Homo sapiens: one gene and its partners. The protein of the gene in region 2 interacts with the protein of the main gene of each other region in a pairwise test. Each region holds a gene or a part of one and is shown on either strand. Other genes may lie near its edges.

What was found.
Region 1: the proteins of NCK2 (region 2) and WASF1 interact in binary tests that used the Homo sapiens proteins (3 or more experiments, as listed by UniProt).
Region 3: the proteins of NCK2 (region 2) and CBARP interact in binary tests that used the Homo sapiens proteins (3 or more experiments, as listed by UniProt).
Region 4: the proteins of NCK2 (region 2) and ZC2HC1B interact in binary tests that used the Homo sapiens proteins (3 or more experiments, as listed by UniProt).

The regions. Positions count from the first base shown.
Region 1 is NC_000006.12:110,120,149-110,125,365, forward strand, and holds part of WASF1 (actin-binding protein WASF1), read right to left. Parts: intron 1-5,217.
Region 2 is NC_000002.12:105,886,910-105,892,411, reverse strand, and holds part of NCK2 (cytoplasmic protein NCK2), read right to left. Parts: intron 1-5,502. UniProt on the Homo sapiens protein: Adapter protein which associates with tyrosine-phosphorylated growth factor receptors or their cellular substrates. Maintains low levels of EIF2S1 phosphorylation by promoting its dephosphorylation by PP1.
Region 3 is NC_000019.10:1,230,984-1,236,200, forward strand, and holds part of CBARP (voltage-dependent calcium channel beta subunit-associated regulatory protein), read right to left. Parts: intron 5,139-5,217; coding exon of another isoform or gene 5,118-5,138; coding exon 5,013-5,117; intron 4,936-5,012; coding exon 4,796-4,935; intron 4,583-4,795; coding exon 4,518-4,582; intron 4,408-4,517; exon of another isoform or gene 4,329-4,407; intron 4,163-4,328; coding exon 4,018-4,162; intron 3,760-4,017; coding exon 3,588-3,759; intron 3,349-3,587; coding exon 3,208-3,348; intron 2,654-3,207; coding exon 2,443-2,653; intron 293-2,442; coding exon 118-292; coding exon of another isoform or gene 1-117. UniProt on the Homo sapiens protein: Negatively regulates voltage-gated calcium channels by preventing the interaction between their alpha and beta subunits. Thereby, negatively regulates calcium channels activity at the plasma membrane and indirectly inhibits calcium-regulated exocytosis.
Region 4 is NC_000006.12:143,932,779-143,937,995, forward strand, and holds part of ZC2HC1B (zinc finger C2HC domain-containing protein 1B), read left to right. Parts: intron 1-4,870; coding exon 4,871-4,941; 3' UTR 4,942-4,955; intron 4,956-5,217.

The sequences.
Region 1 (5,217 bases), on a different chromosome or scaffold from region 2:
CTCACCACTCCTATTCAACACAGTGTTGGAAGGCTAGAGCAATCAGGCAAGAAGAGAAAGAAATAAAGGGTATTCAATTAGGAAAAGGGGAAGTCAAATTGTCTCTTGTTTTCAGATGACATGATTGTATATTTAGAAAACCCCATTGTCTCAGCTCAAAATCTCCTTAAGCTGATACGCAACTTCAGCGAAGTCTCAGGATACAAAATCAATGTGCAAAAATCACAAGCATTCTTATACACCAATAACAGACAAACAGCCAAATCATGAGTGAACTCCCATTCACAATTACTACAAAGAGAATAAAATACCTAGGAATCCAACTTACAAGGGATGTGAAGGACCTCTTCAAGGAGAACTACAAACCACTGCTCAACGAAATAAAAGAGGACACAAACAAATGGAAGAACATTCCATGTTCATGGATAGGAAGAATCAATACCGTGAAAATGGCCATACTACCCAAGGTAATTTATAGATTCAATGCTATCCCCATCAAGCTACCAATGACTTTCTTCACAGAATTGGAAAAAACTACTTTAAAGTTCATATGGAACAAAAAAAGAGCCTGCATAGCCAAGACAATCCTAAGCCAAAAGAACAAAGCTGGAGGCATCACGCTACATGACTTCAAACTACACTACAAGGCTACAGTAACCAAAACAGCATGGTACTGGTACCAAAACAGAGATATAGACCAATGGAACAGAACAGAGCCCTCAGAAATAACACCACACATCTACAACCATCTGATCTTTGACAAACCTGACAAAAACAAGAAATGGGGAAAGGATTCCCTATTTAATAAATGGTGCTGGGAAAACTGGCTAGCCATATGAAGAAAGCTGAAACTAGATCCCTTCTTTACACCGTATACAAAAATTAACTCAAGATGGATTAAAGATTTAAATGTAAGACCTAACACCATAAAAACCCTAGAAGAAAACCTAGGCAATACCATTCAGGACATAGGCATGGGCAAACACTTCATGACTAAAACACCAAAAGCAATGGCAAGAAAGCCAAAATAGACACATGGGATCTAAATAAACTAAAGAGCCTCTGCACAGCAAAAGCAACTACCATCAGAGTGAACAGGCAACCTACAGAATGGGAGAAAATCCTTGCAATCTACCCATCTGACAAAGGCTTAATATCCAGAATCTACAAAGAACTTAAACAAATTTATAAGAAAAAAAACAACCCGATCAAAAAGTGGACAAAGGATATGAACAGGCACTTCCCAAAAGAAGACATTTACACAGCCAACAGACATATGAAAAAATGCTCATCATCCCTGGTCATCAGAGAAATGCAAATCAAAACCACAAGGAGATACCATCTCATGCCAGTTAGAATGGTGATCATTAAAAAGTCAGGAAACAACAGATGCTGGAGAGGATGTGGAGAAATAGGAACACTTTTACACTATTGGTGAGAGTGTAAGTCAGTTCAACCATTGTGGAAGACAGTGTGGCAATTCCTCAAGGATCTAGAACTAGAAATACCATTTGATCCAGCGATCCCATTACTGGGTACATACCCAAAGGATTATAAATCATGCTACTATAAAGACAAATGCACATGTATGTTTATTGTGGCACTATTTACAATAGTAAAGACTTGGAACCAACCCAAATGTCCATCAATGATAGACTGGATTAAGAAAATGTGGTACATATACACCATGGAATACTATGTAGCCATAAAAAAGGATGAGTTCATGTCCTTTGCAGGGACATGTATAAAGCTGGAAACCATCATTCTAAAAAAACTATCACAAGGTTGGAAAACCAAACACCAGATGTTCTCACTCCTAGGTGGGAATTGAACAACATGAACACATGGACACATGGTGGGGAACATCACATACCCGGGTCTGTCGGAGGGTCGGGGGCTGGGGGAGGGATAGCATTAGGAAAAAATACCTAATGTAAATGACGAGTTGATGGGTGCAGCAAACCACCATGGCACATGTATACCTATGTAACAAACCTGCACACTATGCACATGTACCATAGAACTTAAAGTATCATAATAAATAAGAAAGAAAGTAAAGAAGCAGATCTCCGATTTTAAAAAATGGAATCCAAAAAAAAAAAAAAGAAGACATAGAAGAAGTGGTGTCAGAAAACAAATTGACATTAGAGAATCTGGCAAAAGCGTTCCAATTATTCAAGACTACTTTTGATTTATTTTACAACGTGAACCCTTCTATGATACAGTACCAAAACTAAAGCAAATAAAAGGAGGATTGGTACCATATAAAAACATTTTTAGAGAAATGAAGAAGCAAAAAAGTCAGAAATCAAGATGTGTTTTTGTAAAGTTACACCAGTGTGCCCACCTCTACTACTTCTACCTCCTCCACCTCTCTGCCTCTGCTACTCCTGAGACAGCAAGACAAACTCCTCCTTTTCCTTCTCCTCTTTGGTCTGCTCAATGTGAAGATAACGAGGATGAAGACTTTTATGATGATCCACTTCCAATTAATGAACAGTAAGTATATTTTTTCTTATGGTTTTCTTAATAACATATTCTTTTCTCTAGCTTACCTTATTGTAGGAATACAGTATACTACTACACATACAACATAAAATATACATGTTAAGCAACAGTTTATGTTCTCGGTAAGGCTTCTGGTCAATAGTAGGCTATAGGCAGTTAAGTTTTGGGGGAGTCAAAAGTTATATGCAAATTTCTGGCTTCACTGAGGATCTGTGCCCCTTACCCCTACACTGTTCAAGGGCCAACTGTATTTTAAACTTTAAACCCTATCTAAAGTCACCCAGCCATGACAAAGTGGGGAAAAAAAAAGAGATACCCTGGGAAGCCTGCTTTTAAACCTTGTTCTACTACTTTCTGTTAAATGATTTGTGTCTAAAATGGAAATTACTTGCTTTATCTATATCTGTCCACCTGATGAGGGTTAGAGAAGATTATGATGTAAAGGTATATGCAAATAATATGCCTGTCAATCTGAAAGCATTTATATGTAGACTGTAGCATTTATATATAATCAGCATTTATATATAATCAGCATTTATATTAGCTAGAAATAAATTTTAGGCCAAGTAGCAGAACCCAAGATTCATCAAAGACCTAGAAGATTATCTGTCCCAGGGATGCCCAAGATATAGATTCAGAAATTTAGGAGATCTTTTACACCCTCTTGTTACAACTTCTGAAAAAAAAAAATCATAAATCTAAAATCACTGTATTCCTCTAGTTGTGTAAGTTCTTATTACTGAAAAGAGTAAGCCAAAATAACTTGAAGAAGATCCCTGCCATTACTGAATTTTGAGCAGAGGGAGAACCAGACATTTAAGCAAATATTTAAAGCAATTTAATAGATAAGTCCTAATATTTGTTCTATTCACTGTGAGACCTTGGTATCAATTTCCTTATCTGTAAAATAGGAATAAAAACATCTGTCTCTAAAAGAAGCAAGAAAAGAGCCTTGAAGTGCACCTCATACAGAGGAGCCCAATAACAGGCAGCTCTTAATATAAGGTAAGAGCAACACAGCAGAGATAGAAGCACCTCACTTTCAGGTGTCAAAAGTTATTTGGTGATCAAGATACTTCCAGAGACAGTTTCTCTGGCAGATAAGGGAAGCATCCCAAATGGAAGAAAAAGCAGGTATAAAGTTACTCATTTATTCAACAATTGGTAGGGATACAAATGCTAGGTGTAGATACAGAGATGGAAAAGACTAATCTTGGCAATAAGAACTGACTATATTCCATAAGAGAAAAGCCAGGGGAAGAGATCCCTTAGGTATTCAGAATCCCAGTGGTTGTTAATGAAAGGAGTTAGCTAGCTTGCTTTAGGCAGACAGTAAGGGAAGGGTCCCCAGAGAACCTCTGACCCACCCCACAAGGGCTTACACCAGATGCTTTGTGCAGATAAGGGAACTTGCACAGGGGGCTTGCTTAAACATGCCCACAGCAGACTAAGGGCCTGCATGTGCACTAGGGAAATGTGGTGAAGCCACCAGTAATCTGTGCCTCATACAAATAGGGAACCCAGCCCCATCAGCGTCTCTCTCTCTCTCTCTCTCTCTCTCCTCTCTCTCCTCTCTCTCCTCTCTCTCTCTCTCTCTCTCTCTCTCTCTCTCTCTCTCTATATATATATATATATATATATATATATATATATGCCCTTGTATTCAACTGTGACGGGGCAACCTGGAACCTGCTTTCAGGACCCCTCTCTTGGCTGAGAGCTTTCCTTTCACTTAATAAATTCTACTCCATTCACTCTTAGAGTATCTGTGTGCCTAATTCTTCCTCATCGTGAGACAAGAACCTGGACCTAGCTCAGCTAAGGAGTAAAAAACCTTGCATCATTAAGAAAGCAATAAAATGAGAAAGAGGAAATTGATATAAAGTGAATTATAGGTTTGTGGTAATTACCTAATACAAAACAGAATTATGTTCTACTAGGAAAAATCTCACAAAAAACAGATGTACTGGCTGGGTATGGTGGCTCACACCTGTAATCCCAGCACTTTGGGAGGCCGAGGCGGGTGGATCACTTGAGGCCAGAAGTTCAAGGCCAGCCTGGCCAACATGGCAAAACCCCATTTCTACTAAAAATAATACAAAAATTAGCCAGGCATGATGGCACTCGCCTGTAATCCCAGCGGCTTTGGTGGCTGAGGTACAAGAATTGCTTGAACCTGGGAGGTGGAGTTTGTAGTGAGCCAAGATCGCACCACTGCACTCCAGCCTGGGTGACAGAGCAAGACTCTGTTTCAAAAAAATAAAAAAAGGAAGTACATTTTTGTGAGGAAAAGGTCAGGAAGATATCCAGCCCTGAGCCATGTGGATCCCTGCAGTTTACTTTCATTGCTATATTCTCAAGCACTTTCAGTACTAATAATAGCACCAAAGTGAAAATCTCCATTATCTAGAAACATTTTGGATAGCCAAGTTTTCTAAGTAATTCAGATTTTATTATCTAATACATCAATTGTTATTTTAACTATTTTCGATGGAAACTTGTGAAATGTATTCTAAGCTTCCCTCTTCTTAAATGGAATATAAAATTAAACATAATTTAATTTTTTCTTAGGGACTCACGGGCATGAATTATGAAAATCAAATATTATCCTAGGCCAGAAAACAGCCTTGAAATGTATAAGGATATTTGCTTTACATTAAATGGCTTCTTTCCAGTTTTTATGTTGCATCTTCCCTTACATCACTTTGT
Region 2 (5,502 bases):
AGTGCAAACTCATTATGGAATATACAGCACTTCACTATGGAATATACAGTGTTGCCCTGACTGCTCAAGAAATTTGCTGTTTTTCATTTCCCAAACTATTTTTTGATAAACTGGGAATTTATTAAGAGTGGTTTGCATGCAGGCAGTAGCTAGAAATTTTACTACTTCTGATGTCTAACCCTATTAGAAATTAAGACATCAAAATTTTTCTAATTCTTTTTTTTTTTGAGACGCAGTTTTGCTTTTGTTGCCCAGGCTAGAGTGCAATGGTGTGATCTTGGCTCACTGCAACCTGCGCCTCCCAGGTTCAAGCAGATTCTCCTGCCTCAGCCTCCCGATGTGCCACCATGCCTGGCTAATTTTTCTAATTCTAAGCATTTAAAAATATGAACAGCAGTGGAAAATTCCGGTCGCATTTTAAACATAGTTCACAATATCCCAGAGGAAGCTGAACTATGGTTTGATTACAGATTTTATTGAAAAATATTTAAATTCTGTGATGTGCCTTCTATTTCAGAATATTTTAGAAACATGTCATTATTTTAATTAAAATGTGTCTTTTATTGGCCAGGTGCAGTAGCTCACGCCTGTAATCTCAGCACTTTGGGAGGCCAAGGCAGGTGGATCACCTGTGGTCAGGACTTTGAGACCAGCCTGGCCAACATGGTGAAACCTCATCTCTGCTAAAAAATACAAAATTAGCCAGGCATGGTGGTAGTGTGCCTGTAATCCCAGCTACTTGGGAGGCTGAGGCAGGAGAATCGCTTGAACCTGGGAGGTGGAAGTTGTAAGCTGAGATCACGCCACTGCACTCTGGTCTGGGCAACAAGAGCGAAAAATCTCAAAAAAAAAAAAAAAAAAAAAAAAAAAAAAAAAAAATTGGTCTTTTATCTCATTTGCTGAAAAGCATGCAGGAAAGAAGATACTGAACGATAAATGTTCTTTGTACAAAAATATCAAGTTTTGATCAATTCATTAAATGAATAACAATTAGTTACTAACACATGCCAGGCAGGCGGTGCCCTGGATACATGTGTGTGCATGCAGGACATATGCTCTGTGACAATCTGGTGTGGGGAACAGATAAATAGAGGTGTACAGATGGCTGCACAGGGCAGTAAGTTCTATGAAAAAAAAAAAGAAAACAAACAAAAAAAAGAGTTGCATGAAAGAGGAGCATGAGATACCGCAGCTCTAAGTGTGTGAGCGTGCGCAGATGTGAGAGGGAGTATGTGAGTATTGAGAGTGTGTGAGAGTATGCGTAGCGTGTGAGTTCATCTGTGTGAATGTATAAGTGCGTGTGGGGGCAGGAGAGCCCTCTGGACAATGTGGAGCTGAGCATGTGCTCTCCGAGGCAGGGCTGGTACCTCGGACATGCCTGGCCAGTGGCAGGACCACAGCCTAACATCCGAAATTCTTCCTGGAATTCCCAGACCAGTTTTCTGCTTTTCTCAAAGCCCAGAAACTTCCTGCTCTGAGGGTCCAGCAGCTCAGCCCTGCTCTGCGACCTCCCAGCAGGACCTCCAGACAGTTAACAAAGGACTAGGCCATTGTCTATTACAGAGTTCACAAAAGCCCAAATAAATGTTTGATGAGAAGTGTGCAACCCTTGCAAAACAAGGAATCACTCCATTTCTACCAATGACAACTCAGGGGAATGAGTGTCTGAGAAGACTCAAATTGTGCAAGGCAGCTGGGCTCACCCAGCAGCCATAGCTGTTAACAGAAAAGAATGAAAGGAACAATTGTAAGTATAGTTTGTATTTATGCATGCCTCTGTCTCAAATAGACCAAATAAGAACAAACCTTTGAGGCGAAAAGCCCCATCTCATCCCCATGTGAGGCCCAGGGCATACTCCTGGATGAAACTCCAGGAAGAAACCAGAAGGTTAATCTCAGATTAGGCCTCAGCCTATAGATGATTAATATTCTGTACTAGAAGTTGTATCTTTAGGAAAAGATGAAGGGCAGTCTCACTTATAGAGTTTACTATAAGCCAGGCTCAATTTAGAGATAATGTGGCATCATTTTTAGTGGAGGCAGTATGGGAGTGAATCATGGTAGATGTAAGATACACCCAATTTTAATTAAGCCAAATGATCAACAGATGACTTTCTACATAAGGGAAATTTGCTTTTAATTCAAGCTCCTTAATTTAACATCATGGTGTGTGTGTGCCTGTATGCATGCATGAGTTGCAGCAATAAAATTTTCGCAGCAGAAGAGGTAATTTTTAATTTCGTGGGCTCCTGAGCAGAAACCTTTAAAAGTTAAGGATGTAGAACCAATTTATGCCAAGCAGGAGTGCTAAAAGTTGGGGAGTGTTCTTTAATTTAAACTAAGTAGATTTTCTGTAGGAAATCTGAAAAAGAACAATCTGTATACTAACATACACCGTTACATATGACCACTGAACACCTCTAAGTGAAGTGTGAAGATGAACTAGTTAAGATGTTCTCCAAGTGTGCTCTCAAGACCAGCAGCATGAGCATCCTCTGAGAACTGGTTAGGAAGCATATTCTCAAGGGCCAGCCATGGAAGCTCACACCTGTAATCCCTGCCCTTTGGGATGCCATGGTGGCAGGATTACTTGAGGCCAGGACTTTGAGATCAGCCTGGGCAACATAGTGGGACCCTATCTCTACATAAAATTTAAAATAATTAGCCAGGTGTGGTGATGCATACCTGTGGTCCCAGCTACTTGGGAGGCCAGGGTGGGAGGATCACTTGAGCCCGGGAGGTCAAGGCAACAGTGAGGTATGACAGGGCCACTGCACTCCAGCCTAGATGACAGAGTGAGACCCTATCTCAAAATAATTAAAAAAAAAAAAAAAAAAAAAGAAATGCAAATTCTCAGGCTCTGCCTCAACCCTGCTGTAGCAGAAATTCTGGGGTGGAGCCCAGCCATCTGTGTTTTAACCTCCAGCACCGTGTGTTTTAATAAGCCCTTCAGGGGACTCTGATGCAGTTTGAGAACTGGAAGAAAGAAAATCTGGAACAAACATCGGCAGTGCTGGAGCCACCAACAAATGTTTGGTCACCAGAAAAAGATGGGAATGCCATTTATGGGCAAAGCAGCCCATGATGGAGGGAGCTCCAGTCTGTGGATACTTTTCCAATTCTGTCCTGAGGACTCTGGCTCTGCTCCAGACATCTCTCATAGGGAATTTCCCCTGAAGGGACAGCTGGGACACTGCTGTATGGTCTCCTCCTTTCAAAGTGAGCCACCAGTCCCTGCATCTGATGGAGATGGAGTTACTCCCGACCCAAAACAACTCTGCCTCCAGAGGGAGCCAGGGAATGATTCCCATGAAAGCAACTCCATCAGTCCTATTCTCATCTGTTGCAGTCCTTCCACGGTTGGCTTTCTAGAACAGATTTCAAGAAATTGGATGAAAAAGGACCATGCCACACTTGCTCCTCAACAAGTACTAGAGTACTGATAGTATGGTAGAGTACTCTACATTTAAGCTTGTCAAAGAATCTTAACACATTTTTGAAACATGCAGTCAGGATGCTGGCTGAGGCTGCAGTCATCTGAAGGCTAGACTGGGGATGCAGGCTCTACTTCCAAGGCAGTCTGCTCACATGAACCCCTAGGGGGCTCTGTAGGGCTGCCTGAATGTACTCTCAACATGACAGCTGGCTCACCCTAGATCAAGTGACCCAAGAGAGAGCAAAGAGGCAGCCACAATGCCCATCTCGGAAGCTGCCCTCCATCGCTTCTGCCACATCTTGGTCATTAGAAGTGAGTTGCTCAGTGCAGCCCATGCTGAAGGGAAGAGGGTCAGGCTCCACCTTCTGAAGCAAAGAGTACCAAAGAATTTATGGACATCTTTTTAAGCCATCATAGATGGACAGGACACTCATTACAATTTTCTATGATTGGACTAAAACCTAACTAGACTCAGTCCCCGGGTTTTGAAACATCTCCCCTTTGATTTCTCCTCTTTAATTGCCACCTTTGTGCTACCTCCCACTGTCCGCATTTCCTACACTTTCCATCTCCAAACACTGTACTTACTTGGTATATAGTAATTTCTCTGTGCTGACTACTGGGCAAATTCTTCAAATTTTCAAACATCAGACCACTTCTTCCTGTTATGTCCTTCTATGAGTACTCCTTATAAGGAATGATTTTTCCATTCTCATAGTTTTTGAATCAATGGTTCTGGAGAATGAACAATTAGTACAACCCATTCATTTGACCCTTCTTTTCAGAAGTCATTTTCCAAGTGGAATCTAAGGACAATTAATAGGTTGGCGGAAAACCAACCTCTCTCGGGGCCTCTATCATCATTATTTTTGTTTAGGCTTTAGATTCTGTGTTTGAATACAACTAAGTGCAAGAACCCTATTTAGCTCCACATCCCCACACCGGGCTCAGAGTATCTGGTGTTCAACAAACGTGCAGACTTAAAAATTTCTAATTTTGACTACCTCTTCCATTATTCATTCCTTTAGGTAATTCTTACACCTCATCTCTTTGCAATTTGTGCTCGCGATAAGTGGGTACTTTTAGAAAAGAACAGTAGAGAGCACACTCTTTGATCCCATCTCTATGGCTTTGCCAGCTTGATCCATTGCCTCAAATACTTGCTGAAAAGCACCTTTGCAGTTTTATAAAACAGATGTCCTGATCAGATACGCCTCTCCCTCTCTCAAGATTTAATCATTGTTTTCTCATAGAAGGAAAAAAATGAATGCCGAGGACAGACTTTAATATCCTTTATTTCCTCCTCCATTCCTGAAAGCTTATGTATTAATGCGATTTTCTTCTAAGCACAATAGTCATGAGGAAACGGGAGGGAGGGGCCTTGCTCCAGGTACTTTTGGTTCTTTAAACCTTAAAACTTCTCCTTATCTTTCACTTTGGACTTTATGAAATGATGAGGGTAGAAATGCCCTTTGTGTGATTCACCAGGCCTTCCACACAGACCCTGGACTGATCTCCAGCCACGCTGAAGTCTCCAAGCATCAATAATCTACACATCTCCTTCTACCCCCAGAGAGAGGTCACCCTGTTGGTTTCTTATCACAAGTTGTATCATTCTTTTCTTTTGGTAAAGACATGTTTTTCCCCTTTTACTTCTTTACAGAAGGCACTCTTCTGTCCACAGAAGTGGTTCATTTACCTCCCAAAAGTGAGAACAAATGGGTTAGAGGCAAATCGTGATCCACTGATTAATAGTTTCTCTGTTTTTATCTCAGAAAAACTGCCTTTCAGTTTTACCATTCTATTTGGTCACCTGCCCTAGTTGTCTAAGGTAGCCTTCTTTTAATAAAAATTACTCCTGCCTATACTTATGCTGCTAGCTGTCAGTTGACCCTATGTTCTTTGTTTTTACATCAGATTATCTCTTCCTTGCCCCAAGTGTGAAGAGTCTCACCAGCTTTTCCTATTCTCCTATCAATGTTCACTCTATAAAATATTTACTCCACAGGCCTGAAGCCAATCCACACTGACATGTTCAAATATTCATCTCATTAACTTTGGAAGTA
Region 3 (5,217 bases), on a different chromosome or scaffold from region 2:
GCAGGCGAGCGCGTGTCCACGGGGCCTGGAGAGCGCTCCCTGGGCCGCCTAGGGGGGGGCGAAGGGGGGCAAGGGCCCACAGGTCCACCCCTAGCACCTCCATCTACTGAAAAATACCTGCCGAGAGCAGGGGGCGGGCTGGCCAGAAAGGGGCGGGGGTGCGGGAAGGCCACGGCGTCGCCCGCCCGGGCAATGTACTGGATGAAGTCCTCCTGGGGGGCATCCCCCTCCTCCTGCTCCGTGCTCTCACTGGCTGCCCGCTGCCGCTGGAAGTGGTGCCGCTTGGGGGAACCTGCGCACGGGATGTGCCGTAAGCGTCAGCCGGCATGTGCCTCCACCCGCTCCACACACACACAGAATGCCTATGCCCCCCCGCCACACACACACAATGCCTGTGCCCCCCCGCCACACACAACGCCTGTGGACCCCCACCACACACACACAACGTGTGCCCCCCACACATACAACGCCTGGGCCCCCCCCACACACAGAACGCCTGTGGCCCCCATACACACACATAGAACGCCTGTGCCCCCCACCACAGAACGCCTGTGGCCCCCTCACACACACACGCCTGTGCCCCCCCCACAGAACGCCTGTGCACCCCCCATGCCTGTGCCCCCCCCACAGAATGCCTGTACCCTCCTACACACAGAACACCTGTGGCCCCCACACACACACAACGCGTGTGCCCTGTCTCTGTCTCACACACACAGGAGTGGGCCCTGGCTTGGGCCAGACCCTGGCTGGCATCTCCCCGGGTCAGGTGGGTGCGGACAGTGGCTGTGTGTACACCCTGGAGTACAGGTGAGAAAACTGAGGCACGGAGGGAAGAGGTGCTGGGACCAGAGAGCCTGAGCAGGGCAGGGCCAGGAAGCGAGTGAGTGGAAGGGCCTCTGGCACCGATAGTGCCTTGTGGCAGCCCTGGTCAACATGTGGCCACTCATAAGGGCGTGTCCTGGACACCTGGTGGCCTGCACAGCCTGGCTGAAACTACGGAAGGCATGAGAGAGTCACATACAGGCTGGTGGGGGCCAACGAGGAGAGGGAGAGAGGTGCCCTCTCCTGCCAGCTCCACCCTGGTCTGGAGAGCGCTGGGGGACTGCCCCACCCCTGCCTCGGCCCCCTTCTCCCAACAGCCTCCCCAGCAAAGCTTGAGTGGGCAGGCCCCAGCAAACAGGTTCTGGGATGTGCTGCAACCACATTGGACTCTAAATGTCTCTAGTCACCCCTGGGCCCCATTCATTTCAAGATCTGGATTCTCTCAGCTGGAGCGGGGCAGCCAGAGGAGGCCTTCCCCTCCCTGGCCCCTAGCTACCTTGGGGGTGGGGGCTGGGAGAACTCACCCCACCCCCGCTGGCTGGAGCCACAACACAGGGTCTCCCACTGTCTGATGATGTGTCCTCTGTCATGCTGACAGCACCTTCTCTCTGCACTTGTCCCCTATCCTGGCCTCACCTGACGACAGGACCTGCCACCCTGTCCACAAGGCAGAGCGGGCCCCAGCCCCTCTGGGCTGCCCTGGCCCTGCTGAGCTGGCTGAGCAGGGCTGGTGCCTGCTGCCAGTGCTACAGATGGGACACCTCTGCTCCCCACACAAACTCCTGCCTCGAGCCCAGATAAGGCAGCCCTGTCTCCAGGATCCTGCCTGACCCAAGGCCTGCAGAATTGAAGGGCTACTGTCAAACAGTCCAGGGATCTATGTGCTACAGCCCAGAGGGCAAAAGCACCCCCTGCCCCGGAGCTTCGGTAAGTTTTACTGGCACACAGCCACGTGCATTCGTCATGCAGCGCCTCTGACTGCTTCCTCGCCTCAACAGCAGCAGAGTTGTGGAGACACAGCCTCTCTGACCATAACCCCACGAACACCACCATCCGGGGCCTGATGGGAAAAGTCTGCTGACCCCTGGCCCAGTCCAACACTTACTTCGTGTTAGAGGAAGTCAGAGCCCAGACAGGCAGAGGGCCTCGGCCAAGGTCACACAGCAGCTGATGGTCTGCCAGCGGGCGAGGGAGGGGCCCCGGGGGAACCCGCCTTCCACTCACATTCCCAGGGATGAGAGCCGAGCATGGCTGGGAGGGGATGCAGGCCACAGGCCCCACCCTCTGCGCTCCACAGTGACCAGGTGGCCCCCGACACCCTCCTTTACCACCTCATCCTGGATGCCCCAATGGCCCGAGAGCAGTCGGGGCGCGCAAAGCCTTCCCGCACAGGTTCCCGGAGCTGGGTGGGTCTGGCTCAGGCCGCCCGCACACTCAGCCCTCCCAGCCACCTGCAGAACCTCAGGCAGCACGCCCGCTGGCAGACTGGGCAGGACTCAGCCCCAGAGCACCGGCTCCCCACCCAGCCCACAACCTCCTGCTCCTGGATGTCCAGGGCAGCCCCTGGCAGCCAGCACCCAGCCCACAGGGGCCCACTCTCCACCAGGTGCTACAGCTCACCTCTCGTGTCCAGACTGGCTGCCCGCTGGCTGGGCTCCAGCTTCCACTTCTTGACCTTGAAATAGGGGCTGGCCCCATCCAGGCTGGCATGGCGGCGCAGGCGGGTGAGGAACTGCAGAACGGTACCTGCCCCGGATCCCGGGCCCGCCTCCCCAGGCCCTGCTGCAGCCCCGGGCCCTCCAGCCTTGGTGCTCCTGGTACCGGCATCCAACTGGCAGGGAACAGAGATGGCGCTCAGGCTAAGACTTCTTCCTGGGCCCGTGTGCTGGCCCCAGGTGGCCGTAGGTCTGAGAGACAGTCCCAAGGGCCCCCCATCACTGGGACAGAGAGGGGTACCTGCTCGGAGAGGGGCAGAAGCGGGAGGAGGGGCGCTCAGTGGCTGGGTGGGCTACACTAAGGTGCTCTGCCCTCTGGGGAAGGTCCCTGGATATGGGGTTTGGAGAGAAAAGGAGGTGCGTGTCTAGAAGGTCTCTCGCCCACGGCGTGGGCTGCAGGTGAGGGAGGGCAGGGGTGGCGCACCCTCTCCAGAACCTAGGGAATGTCAAATGAGGTGGGAGCCTGGGGTGCCCCCTGCATGTGTGAGGACACGCCTGTGTCCGGTGTGCGGCCGGCTCCCTCTTTCTCCCGTGTGCAATGACCCGGCGGGCCAAGGAGGGCTGCGGTGGCTGGCAGGTCATAGGTTGACCTTGGTCCTGGACTGGGGACAGGGAGGGGAAGGAGCCTCCCCGGCTGTGGACACCATGGGGGACACGCAGGGGCCCTCACCGAGGTGCCTTCCCCAGAGTCGCTAGATGCCGAGGGGCTGATCTCTGCGAAGTCAGTGGCGCCCGCGGCTGAGTTGTAGGGGTCACCTGGCAGGGCGGAGCTGGGGCCCACAGAGCGGCCGGTGAGGGCCTTCCCCGGGGGCTGTGGGACAGAGCCAGGTGGGGGAGGAAGCAGTGACAGGTCAAAGAGCATGGGTGGGTGAGGGACATGGGCAGGTGAGGAGCATGCTGGGCTTGGCCCCCTGCCCTGCTCCACCCCACCCCGCCCATCCCGAGATGAGGGCCACCCAGAAAAAGAGTGGGTGAGGGCGTGGGGGTCCGGGAGTCCCCGGGGCTGCCTCCCGTCCCCCGAGGAACCGGGGCTGCTGCCCATAGGCTCACCTGGAAGATGGCCAGAGTGGCCTTGGGAGAGGTGGCCGGGTGGGGCGTGGTGGCTGAGCTGGCCTCGCCTGAGTCACACTCGTGGATGGTGACAATCTTGAGGGGCGGCAGGTGCAGGTGCGTGAGCCGGGCATTCTTCAGGTGGTGGAAGTCCCCCTCCGTCAGTGTGTACCTGCGACAGCATCTGGCCATCAGAGCCCGCCCACCTCCCATGCCCGATGCCCCAGCTGCCGTGCTCTGCCATCCACCCTGCCGGCCTGGGCAGGGGCAGGCGAAAGGGGGGCAACTGGCCAAGGCCGCCCCACCCCACGGTCCCAGTCCAGGAGCCTCTGCCTTGGTCCCTGCAGCCTCCGCACCCAGCTCCTCCCCCGTCCCGGCGGCCAGGACCTCAGACAGGCCCTGGGGTGCCTCCCAACGCCGCCCCGCTTACCGGCGACCCTTGTCCTGCGTCTTGCGGCTCTGCTCAAACAGCGCCGCCTCATTGAAGGAGACCCGGCGGCCCGTGGAGCTGGTGGACAGGAAGCGTTCGGTCTCCGCATCCTGGCACTCGGGGTCCTCTCCCCGGAAGTCGGGGTCTGCGTGGAGAGGCAGGAGAGGGTGGGCCCCGGGCGGGCCACGCCAGGCGCCTGGTCCCGGGAGGGCTGCTCCTCCGGGCGGCCACGGCAGGGAGGGCTGGGGCCGCGGCACGGGCGGCCGGGCTGGCGGGGCGAGGGACACTCGTCCATCCGCTCACACACTCACTCGCTCAGCACGCGCCTGGGCCCACCTACGCCTGGGCGTTAAGGAAACAGAGATGAGTCGGAATCGAGCTGCGCCCAGTCTGGTGGGGGAGACAGACAGACACAGACGGTCAGGCAGCCCGAGGGGGCGGCGGGTGGCCGAGGGGCGGATGGACAGGCGAGCGCACAGCCAGGCTGGCCAGCACCTCACCTTGGGCTGGGTGGGTGCCGTTGTCCAGGTAGGTGGTGGTGGTCTTCTCCGCTTCCTCCATGGCCCTGGGAGAGACGTTGGGAGAGCCCAGTGGCACGGAGGGCCCAGATAGCCACAGTGGGTCTCGGCTCTTTGCCCCAAGCCAAGCCCTGCGCATCACCCAGTCTCCAGAGGCATAGCCCACCCTGTGACTCAGAAGCCAGTGAGGTAGACCCCCCACCACCCGATGGCACCCACAACCACCATGCACCTGCCCAGCCGAGGTGGGGGCCTCGCACCTGTTGAGGCGCTGGTGGACGTCCCAGCAGCGCTTGCAGAGGAGCAGGACGCCAGACAACACCACCAGCGTGCCCCCCACGAACAGCGACATCACCACCACCAGCAGCACGTAGTTGTCCAGGATGGGGTCTGGCTCTGCCTGCGGGTGTGCAGGGGGGGTCAGGTGCTGCTGGCCTGGACGACCTCCTGCCCCTCCCACCTGTCCCCTGCACCCACCGTGGGGCGTCCAGTGGCATTGTCCCACGACGTCGTCAGGGCTACTGTGGCAGTGGTGGTGGTGGTGGTGGTGGCGGCTGTGGCCATGGTGGCTGTGGGCTGCATTCTGAACTGGGGAGGAGGGCCCTGTGGGGAGGAAGCCTGGTCAGCTCCAGCTAGACCTACTTCTCCTGCAGGAGCCACTGCAGACAAGCTGGGTCTTCCC
Region 4 (5,217 bases), on a different chromosome or scaffold from region 2:
TGGATACACTATTTCAGTGGAAAAATCTGGAACTCAAGGGCAGCTGTTCAGATTCTTTTGTCCCACAGGGTGAACCCTTGATGTGGTACCCTCCCCCTTTCCCTAGGAGCCAGATTGTGGTGATTGTTCTTGCTATTCTAGGTCTAGCCACTCAGCAGGGCTACCAGGCTATTGGCTGGTTCTGGGGAATGTCTGCCGAGTCCTGTGATGCAATTTGTCTTCGGGTCTACCAGCCGTGGATACCAGCACCTGTTCTGATGGAGGTGGCAGGGGAGTCAGGTAGACTCTGTGAGAGTCCTTGGTTGTAAATATGTTTACTGTGTTGTCTTTCTTGAATGCTGGTTATGCTAGCAGCGAAGTTGTCATGTGGACAGACTCGGGACCACTGGTTAGCCAGGATGTTTCAGGCAGTGGAATTAGCTGCTGTTTTTTCCTTCATTAGAGCAGGGTTGTTCTGTTATGAGTTGCTATAATGTTCTGAGTTGGTTAACCTTGAGCCAGGAGGTGGTGCTTTTGAGAGTGCGCCAGCCAGCTGCAATAGTAGAGGGGGATATAAGCTTGCTCTAATTTGGCCAGGACAAGTATTCAGGCTTCTCAGGTGATGGATGGGATCATAAAGCTCCCAAGAGTTTATGTCTTTTGTGATTCACTATTGGACCGGGTAGAGAAATACTATCAGGTGCAGGCAGGATTAGGTAGGTTTGAGCTCAGACTCTCCTTGGGTGGGGGTTGCTGTGGCCACTGTGGGGAGATCAGGGGATGGTTCTTGGGCCAATGGAGTTATGTTCCAGAGGGAATTATGGCTGCCTCTGTCACCAGGGAAGTGGGCGAAAGCTGGTAGCAACAGGCCTCACCCAGCTCCCACACAGTTGGCAAGGCCAGTCTCACTCCCACCGTGCCCTGCTAACCGTGCCAAGTTTATCTCTAGGCAGCCTGCAGCCTGGGACTCAGATCTAGTCCCAGGCTCTAAGTTTCCCCACTGAGGAAGCAAGCACTGCTTTCAGGCCACACCTTTGCCAATCTGCCACACTGTCAGCCGCATCTCCACTGTGCTTTCTGCAACAGTTCCTGTTTGCCCCCAGATTCTTCTCAAGAGGGTTTGCACCCAGTCAAAATTATTACAAAGTTCAGTTGGAAGCTTCTTTCACCCTGTGACCCCTCTCAAATTCTGCCAGTTGCCTTCCCCGAGGGCTCTTGTGAGATAGAGTCAGGGATGGCTTCCCTGGGCTTGAGCTGGAGAATGGGACTGCCTACAAGGCTTGTCCCACTGCTGCTTCTACTTTTACATTTCACAGCAAATCAATTTCAGCTCTAGGTAAGGCTAAATTCTTCTCCCGTAATCTGGATTTTTCAGGTTCCTCAGTGGGGACGTGTGCTTGGAAGCAGATGTGTCCCCTCTCAGACTTTGGGAACTTACGAATTTTCACCTGTCTTGCAGAATTTGCAATAGCCTGCCACTTCTTTCAAAGGATCTGTGATTTCTTTTGTTTTTCCTGGTATGCTCCTGCAGTTGTTCCTGGAGCAAACGACCACAGAGTGAGTGTCCACACGCTGTTCTGTCCATCCAAGTGGGAGCTACTTATCAGCCCTGTCCCCTATCTGCCATCTTCCCTCTCTTTCAATATGCTTTTTTAATATTATGATTTTGAATTCCTTTTCTGGCATTTCATCAATTTTTTTGTTGCAATCTGTTGCTGGAGAATTGTATTCCTTTGGAGGAGTCATATTTTCTTGCATTTTTATGTTTCTTGTGTTCCTATGCCAATATCTCTGCATCTGGTGTAACAGTCACTTCTTCCAATTTTTGAATTGGCCTTCATAGGAAAGACTTCTTCCTACATATGTATCTATAGTGATAGTTGGGTAGGGCACTTTAGCTTTGATACTGGAGCATACAGTAATTGCGTGTCCATGATTTTTTGGCTGTAATTACTATCAGTGGTGTCTATGAATTCCTTAGTGACTTAAACTGCAGTTGTTATTGGAAGCTGTGGTGAGGCTTTGCTGGGGATGGGGACACAAGGTGAGCTGGTCTTCAGGCCTCAGTGGTGGCAGCAGTAGACTGAGCCTGCCTGTCCTTGGGACCCCAGGTAGCATACGTGGGCACTGGTGTTAGCAGGTCCAGGCAGACCAATCTTTGGACCTCCAGATGGCTTGCTCAGGTGCCAGCAGTGGCGATGGTGGGTGGCTCTTCAGGTTCCTGGGTGGCATGCATGGGGTTGCCAATAACATTGATGGTGGTAGACCAACCCTCTGGCTCCTAGGCAGTATCCATAGGGTACTAGTGGTGGCAGTAGTGAGCTGGGCGGCCCCATCCTTAGTCCCCTAGGAGGAGTATGTGGACGCTGCAGATGCTGGTGGTGGTGGGTCAATCTCCAAGTCCATGGATGATGTATGCAGGTACCAATAGGCTGAGCAGACTCACCCTCAGGCACCTGGTAGGGGTGGGTAGAAGCTGACCACAGGCAGGGTGAGCTGACCACAGGCAGGGTGGGTTGATCCCCAGGCCCCAACAATGCACAGAAGCACTGGTGGGCATGACACCACATGGGTCAAGCCTGTCATCAGCTTCCCAATGGTGGGCACAAGCACAGGCTGTGATGGTCAGGGCTGCTCAATCTCCAGGCTCCCAGTCAGTGTCCATTGGTGCCAGCAGGGTGGGTGGCCCTGTCCTCAGGCCCAGTGAGGGTTTGCATGGGTTTCTGTGGCAGGGGTCAGGGCAGCTCATAAGGGTCTTTTTTTTTCTTTTCATTATACAATGCTATATAAAAATAAAGGTCTTTAAAAATTGTTGTTGTTGGGTTTTTTGTTATTGCTATTAATATATTCAGATTGACAATCAGTAGTTTAGGCCACTTGGTATCACTCTTTTTTTTTTTTTTTTTTTTTTTTTTTTGAGACAGGATCTCTCTGTCGCCCAGGCTATAGTGCAGTAGCTTGATCAAAGCTCTCTACAGCCTTGACTTCCTGGGTACAAGTGACCCTCTCACCTCAGCCTCCTGAGTATATGGGATGACAGGCATGTACCACCATACCCAGATAATTTTTTTTATTTGTAGAGGTGAGGTATTATGTTTCCCAGACTGGTCTTGAACTCCTAGGCTCAAGCAATCCTCCTGCCTTGGCCTCTCAAAGTATTGGCATTACAGGTGTGAGCCACTGCCCCTGTCTTCTTTTTTAAGTAATATCTACTTATGGTATCATATATTATAAATCTAGTTGTTGTCTTTCATCTAGATAGCAGTTAGCCTCCTAAAACTCGGGCTTTCATCCTTCAACTCTCTTGAGTAAAATAAGCATTTAGTATCTTGTACCTCCCACATATAACAGTTTTAAAATTCATACCAGAGGAGACACATGTGTGTACAAGTCAACAGCCTTATTGATCCCAGAGTCTTATGAGAAGACATAGCATGCACAGGAAAACTTCTAATACAAAAAGAGCACCTGGTATTAAGTGAAGTTACCATGCCAGTTAAGCAACTGGCGTATGAACTCATTTAATTCTCACAATAGCGTGAGGAGGTCGATGTACTATTCATATCTCTATTTTACAGATGAGGAAAGCACAGAGAGGTTAAGCAACATGGGCAAGCTATTTAATAGGAAGGAGCAGAGCTTTGTACGTTTTGGGAAAAATGGGTCCAAAAATATAAATATTAAGGCTATTGATACATATTTGGAAATTATTTTAGAAAAAGAAGTGGCTCTTCTCGCATTCCTAAAAGATTCTAATGTTCAGATGGGGAATGAGTGTATAGCCTAGTCAGCAAATATGTACTGATGGCTGTTTTCTGGAGGCTTTTGTTATATGAATGATGGATATACTGGAAGGTACTGCCAAGAAGCTGCTTCTCTGAGATCTTCGTACAGAGACTAATGTCACTATGAGCATGTAGTTCTGGGATCTAGACCTGCATTGCTTTGTATATTTAGTAGTGGATTGCATTTGTACAGCTTTGCTGGTGTGGGCTCTACTTTACTTCTGGAGCCAGTGGATTTTTATCAAGTTAAGCATTTTACCTGCACTAGCATTCCATTCTTTACCTAATTTAGTTGTGTAGCAAACCTGTTGAGCATCACAGTTGTGGATTCTTTGGCAGAAGTAAAACCAGTTTATGTTTCAGTAAAACTAACACTGAAAGCTCTTTCTATTCCTATGTCCTTTGAGAGTTTGATTCACAATTTCCTTGTTATTGCTCCTTCATAAAACACTGAGTAGAAAGGAGGCTTCTTAGGACAGAGGGGACTTGTTCCTTTTTTATTTTTTAACAAAAAAAAGAACCTCTGAGAATCCTGTCCCCTACGATGTGGTCAAAACTAAGCCATGGTGTGGTGTGCCCATATCCATAAACTTGTGTATCTCCATACCTAACAACACTGCTGGGCTCAAGGGAAAAGAATACTGTTTGTGGAATGAATCCATTGTCACGTAGATAACCCTAAGCAGGGAAGGCAGCTTATGCTTCCGTAAGGCTTAGCAAAGTCTTCTCATGTGAGAGCTAGCAAATAATTTGAAGATCCAAAATATCAGGGTCCATTTTGAAAGCTGGGGCAATAGCGGAGGGGATGTCGAAAGTCCTAGTGTATAAAGGGTGGGTCACTTGAGGTGCAGTCCAAAGTCCATGAATAAACAGAGGTTAGGGGCAGAGGAAAGAAGGCACCTGAGGTAGCCCCTGTTTTCCTTATTTGGTTATTTGTCTGTAGCTACCCCACCCTCATTGCCCTCCCCACCACACTCCCCCACCTCCCACCAAAAAAAAGGAAGAATAGAAACTTTTGAACCCATGTGGGGATTTCACAATCATGTCTTTTTTTCTTGGTAATGTTCTGCTTTGACATAATAACAAATCTGTTTATGTTTGCAAAGGATTAGCTATGGACCCTGCTTCTGGAGCAAAACTCAGACAAGGATTTAGTAAATCTTCTAAAAAAGATTAACTCCTAGAAGCCAGGTAAGAAAAAAAAATCACCGCTAATCCAGCTGTTGCTGACCAGTTAATGACTTTTAAGAGAATGGATGCATAGTAAGCAAACTGAAGAGACATCTGGACAAACTCCAAGTTGGGTTAACAAAATGTATGCTCTTGAAACTGACTCTGCTGTTAAACATACAGTTTAAAGAGGATATTCAGTTTTTGATTCATGACTTAATAGGAAAGGGGAATGATCCCTCACTTTTGACCTGAAAGGTTACTGCCTTTTCCCTTTTTCTAA